Regions from separate parts of the Homo sapiens genome. Here regions 2, 3 and 4 are each reported to be linked to region 1. Evidence: microRNA targets listed by miRTarBase, many of them from high-throughput screens and not tested one by one. Region 1 holds a microRNA gene; each other region holds the end of a gene's coding sequence.

Region 1 (3,160 bases):
TACTTTTGTGATGAATTCAACTTACGATTAGAAAATTCAGATATCAAATGTAAAATACACAAGGGGTGCTTGATTTTTTAAAAAATATATTCTTAGGAAGTATTCCAACAAGAAAAGATGGTAGACCTCCAATGTGGGTCACAGCTGGCAGTCTGACCCCAAGAAGTTTGAACCCAGCCTCTATTATCTGTGCAAGACAGAACTGTACTTCTGCTTTGGAGTTAATCCCAGAAGAATTTATTTCTTTTCCAGCCCTTCACATAGCTTGTGCTTTATGGTGGCAGACTCAATGGACCAAACCTTCAGCTGTGGGAATCATGGCTTCAGCCATTGAACACACACAGCCCAGTCAGCTGGCAGAGTGGACAATAAACCTACAAACACTCAGCAAGTCACTCAGGTTCTTGATTCAAGAGTAAATGGCTTCATAAACACAATCATAACAACAGCGGCATGAGTTGGTGCATGTCAATGTGTACATTTCGGTAGAGAGGGCCCAGAGACACGTATTTTGGCAGATGCTAGGTCTTGGCAAGACTGTAAGCAAAATCACAAAGCAGCCCAAGTCTGTGGTCAGTCCCAACTTCCTATCAGTACACCTTTTCCATCCAGGCACCCCATAAAGGTGGATTTGGTCTCTTCCACATTCCATTAAGTGTAGCCTCAATTCCCAACAAAAACCCACACCACACCTCTTTTAAGGAATTTTATAGGAAAACTTTACCTAAACATGTATCCCCAAATCCTCTGAACTAGCAAAATCCTATTCAGGTTTATCTCCATGTCAGAGAGATGGGAAATATATCAAGTTCTGTCAGCAGGTCAGCCAGGCCGAGCATGCCAAGTGATCTGGGGTTATAGACAGCAGATTAATCTCAAAGCTGGAACTTCTTTAAGACCAGGAAGTAGCCCCTTTTCTGATTAAAAGACAAGTCAATAATTCTGGGTCCTTGGTCCACCACTGTGATATGTCCCTTGCAAAACAGGCACTCTCAGGCAGTCTTCCCTGCAGAGCAACCATGATGGATACTGACTACTGACTTGAAAGTGCTTTGACACCCCCAGATGGAAGGAACTAATCAATTATGCTTCTCACTTAGAGGCACCCTGCTCATTCATGCTGAAGATAGAAGTCCAGATAAAAGTAGAATTACTGGGAGTCCAAGATCCAGAAAGAAAATGAGAGAGCTCAGCTGGTCACTGTGAATGATGTGCATGTGCCCCAAGCCTTTGAAACACATGACATTTTCCAGCAGCCAAGCACTCATCAAATTGCAGAATGTCGAAGCTACAAGGAAACTTAGCAATTATTTAATGATCTAAATTACTTTTATTATAGTGAAGAGGAAGCTGAGGCCTAGAGAGGTAAAATAACCTGTCATATAGCTGAGCAGCGAAAGGAACAGACTCATTACCCTAGTGATCTCCTGTCACACAACCCATCTCATGAAGCTCTCTCTCAGGTCGAGTTTAATAGATGAGAGAACAAGGGGTAGTCTGCCTATGCAAAGCAGGTACACACAATGAGATCAGAGCAAAGGGGATTTCCTCCCCTGAAGCTAAACAGCCCCCATAAGTGATGTTACGTGTTAGGATAATTTCCTTGGTGTGCTGGAAGATGTTTCACAAGCATGGGTGGTGGGGACCCTTATTTGCCATATTTGCCAATTTCTATAGTGTAAATACTCTCATCATGGCAGATTTCAAGCTACCAACTTGATGCCACTGAACAGCAGTTGGGGAGAGATATGTGCAATCAGCTCTTGTGAGCTGATAGAAGCTGGATCCTCCACACCACTGGAATTTCTGAGAAGTCTACATCACGGGTTTAGGAATGAAATAACTTTCTGGCCCACAAGAATAAAACACCCAGGTTTATGAGGAAAATCCTAGCAGCACACACTCTAGGTTTCACTCACTGAAACTCTGATTCTCTCTGGATCTCCTGGACATCACAGTTCCCATATCCATGGGATCCAGAGAGAATCAAAGTTTGGAGAAGTTACTTGGTCCATCATGTCTGTATCTCTGGGTAGTATCCTACCTAATTGATCCAAGGCAGGAGCACTGAGAGGTGGAATCCACATTCCCTATCTTAATGCTTTTGGCAACCAAGCATTCCTTTCCCAGCAGTAACAGGATCCAGTTTCCAAGGTGATATGTGAGCTCAGAGCCCCATCTTTACCAACGTCAAAGGCAGTGCTTGGATTCAGCTTCAGGTAGGCCTCCTCTGTTCATGTAAGCAGGAAGGAAAACATGTAAAACTGAATTCCTCCTCAATTTCTTTCTTTCTTTCTTTCTTTCTTTTTTTTTTTTTTTTTTTTTTTTTTTTTTTTTTTTTTTTTTTTTTTTTGGCTGAGAAGAGTTCCAAGGCTGGGGCAGCAACTCATCAGGAAAAGTTCTTAGCCTGTGCTTTCTTTTTGCCAAACATTGATTTGCTAATAGAGAAAATAACTGGTGTATAAACAAAAGTGGTTGATGACATCCAAGGGTCTGGAGCAATTCCTCCACATCGTTCTGACAGCTAACAAATGGAACTAGCTCTTAGGGAGCATGTTTAAGGAACAGCTGGAATATGTAACGGACATTTTTCTGTGAATTTGACAGGTCAAGCTCCATCACGGTTGAGCTACGCTCACCGGACGTGGATCAGAATGAACTCTGCCATTCCTCAGAAGGTTGCCAAGAGGGCTTTGAAGAGAAGGGAATCCAAGGAACTCAGTTTCAGACATGGAGAAGAATAAAGACCAGACAAATCATGAGCAAACCTGATTTAAAGAGAAAGATCTATAAATACCAGTTGCTCAGCTTTCTCCCTGGTTTCCTGACCCTATGATGAGCTCCACCAAAATTAAGTAAGTATAGCCCTTTCCAGAGGGTCACTTGGAGGGAAGATCCTGCCATATGTCGCCTATTGGTCTTTAGCCTCACCACCACCCCAACATCTGATAAAGTCAACAGACGTGAGTTCCTAAAGGATACAGAATATACAAGATACTTTCCCTTATACAAGGATTCACTCTAAGCATCGTTAAAATGGCAAACTCACCTGGGACCCCTAAGATAACCTGATTTACCAAAATCTGGTTTATCCTTAGCATATGAGGAGCACATCCATTCTCTAAAGCAAGGAGATTTTCAAGATCAATGAGCAGAGAAA
Region 2 (3,160 bases), not on the chromosome of region 1:
GAAGCTTTTACTCATGGAGGAAGGCAAAGGAGGGGCAGGCGTGTCACAAGGAGAGAGAGGGACAAAGGGGGAGAGGAGGGAATCACCAGATCCTTTTTAGCAAGCAGATATCACGAGAGGGCCTGATGTTACTAATACTATTTGATGGTTGGCGATGTCTGTGCTTCAGAAGGGATGCTTTCACCGACCCGTGTCTCCTTCCCCTAGGTGATGCTGGAATCCTCTGTGTACCTGACTCTGGCAGTTTACAGTGGCTGCTGCCTCCTGGCTGCCCTGGCCTCCTGCTTTTTGCCCATTGAGACCAAAGGCCGAGGACTGCAGGAGTCCAGCCACCGGGAGTGGGGCCAGGAGATGGTCGGCCGAGGAATGCACGGTGCAGGTGTTACCAGGTCGAACTCTGGCTCTCAGGAATAGTGACCGATGGGGGACTGAGCTGGTCTTTGAGGCTGCAGAGCTTGGGGGGCTGGCAGGCCCCAACTGGGGCACTGATTGTCACTGCCGACATCAAGAACTCACCCAAGAGTATGACCTGGACCAACAGGGTTTTGTGTCTTGACTCAGTTTGCTCATCTTCATTGAGGTCCACCCAGGGATGGGGAGATGTTTGCTCTAGGGGGTTCTCTGTATATGTGGTGAAAGCTTTGTTCATAACCTGTGGATCTACATGGGAAGACTACCCATATTAGGAGGGTCTGGTAATGCCAGCAACCAATCAGACACCACCCAGAGTCACCCGGCCAAACCCTCAGTGAACAACCAAAATATCTCTCTGTAGATACCGTCCAGGCTCAGGCCCATGTGACACCTGCTGTCCACCCACCGGACCTGTTCAGTAGGTTTCTCCCACACTCACAGCCCCAGGCTTTCTTCTTTGAAATTGCAGGCGATCTAGGTGTGGTCTGAGCAGCTATTTCCTGGCAGGGGCCCCCCGGTTTGCCTCCCTAGAGCCTGACCAGTGGATTCTCTGGCAGATGGACATGGTGCATTCAAACTGGAGCCACATGCCCCCACCCAGCCCCCTCTGGAGTTGCCGTTGTTGGCACCAAGAGATCCAGATGTGTCCCTGGGGACAGCTGGTCTTGCACCAGGTGACAACCTCAGAACGCCGTTACCCCCTGGGAACTGAGGACTGAGGCCAAAGTGAATCAAGCTGAAGTCAGAGCACGGGCCTCCCCTTCTGAAGCAGCGAAGGCCACGGTTCCGACTTCTTTCCTGGCCCCCTCCTTGGTCAGGCTGAATGGTGACTTTTATTGTTTTTTGAGACGGAGTCTTGATCTGTCGCCCAGGCTGGAGTGCAGTAGCGTGATCTCGGCTCACTGCAACTCTGCCTCCCGGGTTCAAGCAATTCTCCTGTCTCAGCCTCCCGAGTAGCTGGGATTACAGGTGCCCACCTGTACTTTTTAGTAGAGACAGGGTTTCACCATGTTGGCCAGGCTGGTCTCGAACTCCTGACCTCAAGTGATCCACCCGCCTCGGCCTCCCACAGTGCTGAGATTACAGGTGGGAGCCACTGCACCCGGCCTGAATGATGACTCTTGAGGGGAAAAAGTTTACTCAGGTTTGCAGGTACAAAATCCAAAATCCAGGGCTTTGGGTTTTGTGCATGGGTAGACAGCTGAATGGGCAGAGAAACCAGAAGGATGCTACACCCACCATCTCATCCCATGGGGATCAGGGGACCAGGATTCCCTGATGCGAAGCTGCTCCTCTGTCCAGGGACGTCTTGATCATTACACAAAGGCAGCCCCTGGAGTTCCATTCATGGAGCCTGCCGTGGAGTGGAGAGGGGTGGGAGGACTCAGGTGTGTGAAATGTATATGTTTTCAAAGGAAGCAGTGGGAGGCCAGTTGGTTTTGAGTTGGTCTCCGCAGGCAACATCACTTCTGGGATTTGGTTTACTGGAGCCTTTTTTCCCATGGTGAAGGCAGGGGACATAGACAAGGAGGGAGGAAGCTGGCAGATCCCATCAAAGGCCAGAGCAGACAGACCTACTGCTTGAAGTAAACATTGCAAGGAAGCCAATTTGTGCGTTCAACTCTTATTAAAACATGTCAGTGATGGACATTGCAAGAGCCTAAGTTTATTCATTGTCATCATGTCCTAGTGACAGTCCAGCCTAACGGTCTGACTACCTTTGTTCATCGGAATTCATCTCAATGCTTTAGTGTGATAATCTCCTTTCCAATGAGTGGGGAAAGACATACCGTTGGCAGCCAACATTGTGGCTGAGCTTGTTGGAGACAACACTTTCTTCTAATGGTGTGCAGGTCATGATGGGGGACTTCTTCCAGCTCAAGTTCTAAATCAACTGCAAACAATACTGTGTCTCTAAAATGTGGGCTGCAGCCCCCTCCGCCCAGGCAGTTGAAGAGGAGATGGCTTGGCAGATCTCTGTCTCTCTCTGACAACCACATTTCCTTGAACCACGTGTGGCTGTAGCTCTAATTATTTCTGGACAGCTGAGCTCTCCTGGGTAACACAGAACTTTTGCTTGTCTCTTTTGCCTTCCGGCTGGTCAGACGCTACTGGATGATCATGTCCGCTCCCTCACCCTAGAATAACCCAGTGGAGCTGGGGGCTGGGGGGGATAGAGTGCTTGGTGGGCAGGAATATTTCCCAGAGACTAGGGTAAAGGGGTTTACAGTTGAGGGCCTTCTCTACTTGAGAAAGTGAAAGTTAAAAACTCCTGCTGGGTATGGTGGCTCATGCCTATAATCCCAGCACTTTTGGAGGCCGAGGCGGGCGGATCACAAGGTCAGGAGATCGAGACCATCCTGGCTAACATGGTGAAACCCCGTCTCTACTAAAAATACAAAAAAAAATTAGCCAGGTGTGGTGGCGGGTGCCTGTAGTCCCAGCTACTCAGGAGGCTGAGGCCGGAGAATGGCGTGAACCCAGGAGGCAGAGCTTGCAGTGAGCCGAGATCGCGCCACTGCACTCCAGCCTGGGCGACAGAGCAAGACTCCATCTCAAAAACAAAACAAAACAAAACAAAAACTCTTTGCCTTGTAAATAGCCTGCCTTTTTCAAAAAAATCAATATTATCAAATGATACAAGAGCTATCACAAAAGGCACCCAAACTTCTGAATATGTGAGACCTTTAGCTGAGAACATTTGTATCTAATTTTGAACAATCCTATTCAAAAAGCTCCTATTTTC
Region 3 (3,160 bases), not on the chromosome of region 1:
CAATAGGGCAGACCTCATTCGCCACTTCAGCATCCACACTGGAGAGAAGCCCTATGAGTGCATGGAGTGTGGAAAGGCCTTCAACCGCAGGTCAGGCCTCACAAGGCACCAGCGGATTCATAGTGGAGAGAAGCCCTATGAATGCATCGAGTGTGGGAAAACATTTTGCTGGAGCACAAACCTCATTCGACACTCTATCATCCACACTGGAGAGAAGCCGTATGAGTGCAGTGAATGTGGAAAGGCCTTCAGTCGCAGCTCGTCCCTCACTCAGCATCAAAGGATGCATACTGGGAGAAATCCTATCAGTGTAACAGATGTGGGAAGACCTTTTACAAGTGGGCAGACCTCAGTCAACATCCAAGAACTTTTATTGGGGAAAAACTTTTTGAATGTCACCACTGAGGAAAATCTTTTGCAAGAGGAAGCATCTTACATGGCATCTGATCGTACATACCAAAGAGAAACCCCACAAGTGTCTTCACTGTGAGAAAACCTTCTGTTGCCAAATGTCATTTGTCACCTAAGGAGTCATATTAGAAAATCACGCAGCTTAGAGCCTTATTCTCCATCCGAATTCATCCTGGAAAAACACCCAGTGGTTATTACGCACTTGGGAAAACCTTTAGCTCCATCTTTCTCATTAGTTTACAGTGCAATGTTATCTCAGGAATTTTTATAAACAGAAAGAGGTGACATAGAAAAGAAAATGAAATGCAGACACTGCTTTTATACTGTTGTCTTGTATGTACATTTCTGTCCTGTGTCAGGAAAGTTAGTAAGGGAAGGTCTGGAAACTTACTCAATGTCTTTGTTCTACAACATTGTCTCTTCTTAAGAAGCATTGTTTTTATGAGAAATAATGAAGCCTTGAGTTATGAAATACTTTTATATTTAAGGATTAAAAGAAACATGAATGCGCACATTTTATTGTACCACTTAATACTGTTTAGGTCTTTGATTTTTTAAAAAAATTCTTTTTTAATGGGTTTTAAACACTAACACTGAGAATTTTTCTTGATTCCCATCTGTTGGTTTACTTGATTGCTATAGCTGTATGGTAAATCTCAAAATTAGGTAATGTGATTTCTTTTTTCTTACTATTTTTATTTAAAATTCATTTAGCATTCCTAGTTTGACTTTCCATATACACTTTAGGATTGGTTTTTCTGTTTTTCAAATATTCTTGCTTGGATTTTGATAGAAATTGAGTTAAATCTATAGATCAATGTGTTGGAAATTGGCATCTTAGTCTTCCAATTCATGAACATAGCCTATCTTTTCATTATTTAAATTTTCTTTGATATATTTCATTACTGTTTTATAGTTTACACAGTATAACTCCTGCACATTTAAAATAAGAATTATAGCTGCATAGTTTTTTGAGTGATTGTAAATGGCATTGATATTTAAAGTTTCAATATTCACATGATGTTGGCTAGTATACAGAAACATTATTTTTTCAATCTTATTTTGCTGTCTTGCAACCTTCCTAAACTCATTATTTCTTGCCATTTCTTTTGGGAGAATCCTTAGGATTTTAAATATAGAAATGTCATTTGCAATTTGGGACAGTTTTATTTCTTGCTTCCCATCTGTATACCTTTTATTTGCTTTTCTCATGTTATTGTACTAGGTAGGATTTCCAGTGTGATGTTGAATACGAATAGTGACAAGTTATCCATGCCTTGTTCCTGATATTAGGGGGAAATGTTCAGTTTCTCATTATTATGATGTTGAAAGTTGCTTCCAAAGAGTTTCTCTATCGAGTTTAGAAAGTTTCCCTCTATTCCTAATTTGCTGGGATTTTTTTGGTTATTATTAATAAGTGTTGAATTTTGTCATATGCTTTTTCTCCACCAATTGATTTAATTATGTGATGTTACTTCTATAGTCAGTTGATATGATGTGTTACCTTGATTGAGTTTCAAGTATTGAACCAGCCTCACATCTTTGTGATAAGCCCTACTTGATCATGGAGTATAATTTTGTTTGTGTACTATGCTACAGTATTTCATTTGCTAGTATTTTGTTGAGGAAGCTTTCCTCTGATTTCATGAGTGATAATCTGTAGTTTTCTTTCTTCAACTGTTACTGTTTGGTTTTGATGTCTAGATGATAACTAACCTCCTAACATGAATTGGAAGGAATTCTCTTCTGTTTTTTTGGAAGATCATGTGTAGAATTGGTGTTATTTGTTCCTTTAATGTTTGGTAGCTTTCTCCAGTGAAGAAGTGGGACCTGGAGATTTTCCTTTTGAATGCTTTTTAATTATGTATTTATTTTATTTAATAGGTATAGAACTATTCAGAGTATTTCATATTGGATGAATTTTTATAGATTTTCTTAAGGAAGTGTTCATTTTATGTAAATGTTCTAATTTGTAGCATTCTTTGAAATATTTCCTTTTATCCTCTTGATGGCAGCAGGATCTGTACTTATGTTCCTTGTTGTATTCTTGATATTGGAAATGTATCACTTATTATTGTCAGTCTTTGTAGACATATGTCAATTTCATTGATCATTTCAAAGAAATAGCACTTTATATCACTGATTTTTCTCCAGTCTCTGTTCTTAATTTCACTGATATCTGCTCTGATGTGTATTGTATCCTTTCTCCTACTTGCTCTGGTTGTATTTGACTCAGTGGTTTCCTGACGTGGATGTTTAGGTTATTGATTTGAGGCTTTTTTTCTTTTTTAATATAAGCTTTAAGTTCTATACATTTTTCTTACACTGCTGTTAGTTTCATCCCACAAGTCTTAATATGCTTTTGATTATCTTACTCAGTTCTAAGATTGCCTGATTCCTTTTGAGACATCTTCTCTAACCCAGGAATTATTTAGAAGTATATTGTTTAATAGTGTTTGGAGTATTCCCTGCTATTTGTTATTGATTTCTAATTTGTTTTGCATTTGATGTTACTGTTGAAATTTGTTGACTTTTTTTCCTTATGACCCAGGATATAGGCTGTCTTGTTTTACATAGCTGCTTGAAAAGAATGTGTGTTCTCGGTCATTTGGTGGAGTTTCTGTAAAAGTTTGTATGATCCTGTTAGTTGGTGGTGTTATTTAGGTCTCCTGTATCCTTGCTGATTTTCTGTCTAGTATTTCTATCAATTGCCAAGAGAAGGATGTTGAAGTCCTGAGCTATAATTGTG
Region 4 (3,160 bases), not on the chromosome of region 1:
TCTACAACCTCCGCCTCCTGCGCTCAAGCAATCCTCCCACCTCAGCCTCTTGAGTAGCCAGGACTACAGGCATGCCCCACCACACCCAGCTAATTTTTGTATTTTTGTAGAGACAGGGTTTTGTCATGTTGCCCAGGCTGGTCTTGAACTCCTGAGCTCAAGCAATGTGCCCGCCTCGGCCTCCCAAAGTGCTACGATTACAGGCGAGAGGCACTGCACCCAGCCCATGGTTTCCTAACACTGCCTCACTTTGATCTTGTGTGAAATTGTGACTCAGTGCTGAGCTTTAGACCCAGATAAATGTTGAGGGGGAATACAGAAGAGAATTGACCTTTCTGAACAGCTCAACCTAGTTTCTAAAGGCAAGATTTTACTCCAGCGACATGTACTGGTGACCATGATGTCACTCTGTGAGCTGGCCTCACCAGTAACCCAAACACAACGCTGAGGAAGGAGACCATTTCCCACCAACAGCACACACCTATGGCTGGGGTGGCCAATGATGGGGCACCAATAAGGATAAGAGTCTTTGGCGGCTTTCTTTTTTTGAGCCCATATTTTATCAATTTAAAGCATGAGAGCAGCAGAGATGGAGAGTAGAGAAAAAAACAGGTTTCCCAAGAACTCTGGCAAGAATGTTGCTACTTGGTGAAGGAATGGTTATCATTAGTGCACCTGTCTTAAATCCTGAAATGCATCTTGGGACCTGCAGTTCAATATTTTGAAGACTACAAAGGTAGCAGTGGCTGTTGGCCTCTCCAGGTCCCTGCTGGGTCCCAGAGATGAGAAAGGGTGGAGTTAGTAAAAGAGGAGGCTGCCCCTTAAAGGACAGTTTGGTTTGGAGGGAAATCCCAATCCGTGCAGCTGAAAGATTCCCTGCAGGCCCCTGGGGACCTGCTGTCACCTCCCCAGTGTTCCTGACTGGTCTGAGAGGTGTGCTCCAGAACCCACGATAAGACCGAGTTCTCTAGAAACTGCCTCTATCTCTGAGTCTGTACTATGGCTTATTTCTGACAGAATGAAACTTTTGTATCAAAGGAGCTTCAGCTAAAGTTGAATGTTTTTCTTTCTCAGTTTTTATGGCCTTATTAAACATGTTTAGCTAGCCAAAGCTTCCTCCTCCTCACCATGCTCAGTGTTAGCATGGTGGTGAGGCTATAAAGAGGCACCACAGGAAGGAGCCTGCACTTCCCCCATGGGATTTAAAAAAGAACCAATTTGGGCCATGCTTGGTGCATCTAGCATAATCTTGGGACAAATCCACATGATTCAGGTCAAAGTTTTGGAGTTAATTCTCCCATTATTATTTGCTCCTTTCCAAAGCCTTAATGTGAAATTCAGTCAGGGTCTGGCCATGGTGGCAGGTGTCCCTACACTCTTTCATTCAGAGAAGGAGCAGCTGTGAATACACCACTGCAGTATTTCTAATGACATCTTGAGCCATAAACAACATAACTGCACTACCATATATCCAGGCAGTAGGAGTGTTCAACGTTTTCTAGTGTTTCTGTGAAACACTAAATATTGGATTAGTTTGAAATGCAATTGACCCCAGGAGTAGGCTCAATAAGGTCATTCTGATTAATGAAAATGTGAAAAAAGGTGACATGTACAAGGAAACACTGCTGTTCATATTCTTGAAATAGACTTTTCTTTAAGACAAAAGTAATGACATTTGGTTCATTTTCACAAATTGCACACTGGGTGAGATCATACAATTACTGCAGGGAACTGTAGGCAAGCAATTTGGTCATAGGAATTTGTTTCTTTGTCTTGTTTTAAATGAAAAAGCTATATGAAATGCATAGCTTTGATTAACCTAAAGATACAGTTTCCTTCTTTGTAAAACTCCAGATTTAGGATGCTGGCAAAGGCAGTGCTGGCAAAGTATTTAATGCACATGGAAATGCTATTCTATTTTGGCTTCCAGAAGTAGCCCTAGTAAATTCTATGCACCAATGCATTGGCTAATAATAATTTCAGTTTTACTATAAATTATCTAAATGTCACTTAAGTACTTAAGAAGTAGCGCTCGCTCCTTTCTAGAAGCTGTCTAAGGCAGCTGATGCGTAAAGCACCTCATCTAGACCTCCAACTAGTTCAGCAGTTCAATCTGTGCCCCTCAGCCACAGGACTGCCCTCAGTATCCCTCACTACACAGCTCCCCTCTCCTGGGGACTTTTCATGTTCATTTCTGCCTTGTCAAAGGCAGTCCAGGCAAGGAAGAGAAACGTCAGAAACACGATCGTCAAGGACTGCTCCGTGTAGCAATCTCAATTCTAAGAATAATTACATGGGTGTGAGGAACACAAAAATCCCACCTCACAGAAGATAAATGAGTTGCACTCACACTGCCAACTCTTCAGGGATTATCCCCACTATCTCCTCAGAAAGCATGCTTTCTTTGTTATATCATCTACTGCTCTGTTGGCCAGACTTTCATTCACACTATGTTAACTTTCATCTCAATCATCTCAGCCTTCATGTGATTTGCTTATTGTGTTTCTCTAGTTTTCACTGAACACACAGTGCAAACAAAGGCAAAGACTGAAGCAATCATTTCAAAAACAAGAGCTCACACTACAAACACACATGAGCATCACATATTGAAACGTAGGCTTTCTCTTGTCTTTATTCTGGGGAGGAGGAATCCTCCTCATCATCTTCCTCATCTTCATCATTGAACGAACAGGGGGTCTCGCCTCGGGACTCGGAGCAGTGAGAGGCCGCACTGCTGGACTGGTGACTGTTTGGGGCCAGGAACTGCCCAGTTGCTAAGGCCACTTCTGCATCCAAGCATAACCCTTGGTTTACACTAGCAAACAATTAAAAACACACAGGCTCATTAATGTGGTATAAACAGTTTTGTAAAACATAGGAATAAAAACAGGAAGGAGGTGCCATTGGTGAGATCTGCCACAAACCTGCTCAGCAGGACCTGTGCTGGCAGTAACATGACCCCGGCTCACCCCTACACAGACAGTCAGGGCTCTGGGGTTTGCCTTTCTAACCCTGAAAAAAATACGTACCTTGACTGGGGTAAGGTGGCACCAGTGGTCAGGTCTAAATTTGAAACTGATTGGGTAGAGTTCAGAAGTAGTCCCTGATTTAACCAAGAAGGTCCTGTGGAGATATCTAAAGGAAAAAATGAGAACAAAAA

Evidence for each region. Region 1 holds the annotated microRNA hsa-miR-4768-3p (CCAGGAGAUCCAGAGAGAAU, at 1,930-1,949, opposite strand). A microRNA usually pairs through its seed, bases 2 to 8, with sites in the 3' UTR of a target mRNA and lowers its output. Matches are read on the target gene's strand: a 7mer-m8 pairs with bases 2 to 8, a 7mer-A1 pairs with bases 2 to 7 and ends in A, and an 8mer does both.
Region 2: the mRNA of SVOP is a reported target of hsa-miR-4768-3p. Seed matches in the 3' UTR shown: 7mer-m8 at 1,347-1,353, 7mer-A1 at 1,446-1,452 and 7mer-m8 at 2,466-2,472.
Region 3: miRTarBase lists ZNF805 as a target of hsa-miR-4768-3p. Seed matches in the 3' UTR shown: 7mer-m8 at 3,077-3,083.
Region 4: the mRNA of TFDP2 is a reported target of hsa-miR-4768-3p. The part of its 3' UTR that is shown has no 7-base or 8-base seed match.

Annotation. Positions count from the first base shown.
Region 1 is chrX:17,424,716-17,427,875 of GRCh38, reverse strand. It overlaps MIR4768 (microRNA 4768), which reads right to left and starts at 1,995; the gene lies at 1,922-1,995. The region is part of intron 1 of NHS (NHS actin remodeling regulator); the gene reads right to left.
Region 2 is chr12:108,909,789-108,912,948 of GRCh38, reverse strand. It overlaps SVOP (SV2 related protein), which reads left to right. Exons shown (of 16, transcript NM_018711.5): 16 at 208-3,160. The coding sequence ends at 414. Among named protein-coding and RNA genes, the nearest start is that of DAO, 31 kb to the right of the region's middle.
Region 3 is chr19:57,254,214-57,257,373 of GRCh38, forward strand. ZNF805 (zinc finger protein 805) reads left to right here. Exons shown (of 4, transcript NM_001023563.4): 4 at 1-3,160. The coding sequence ends at 490. Among named protein-coding and RNA genes, the nearest start is that of ZNF805, 15 kb to the left of the region's middle.
Region 4 is chr3:141,949,882-141,953,041 of GRCh38, forward strand. It overlaps TFDP2 (transcription factor Dp-2), which reads right to left. Exons shown (of 13, transcript NM_001178139.2): 12 at 3,030-3,135; 13 at 1-2,815. The coding sequence ends at 2,632. Among named protein-coding and RNA genes, the nearest start is that of ATP1B3, 75 kb to the left of the region's middle.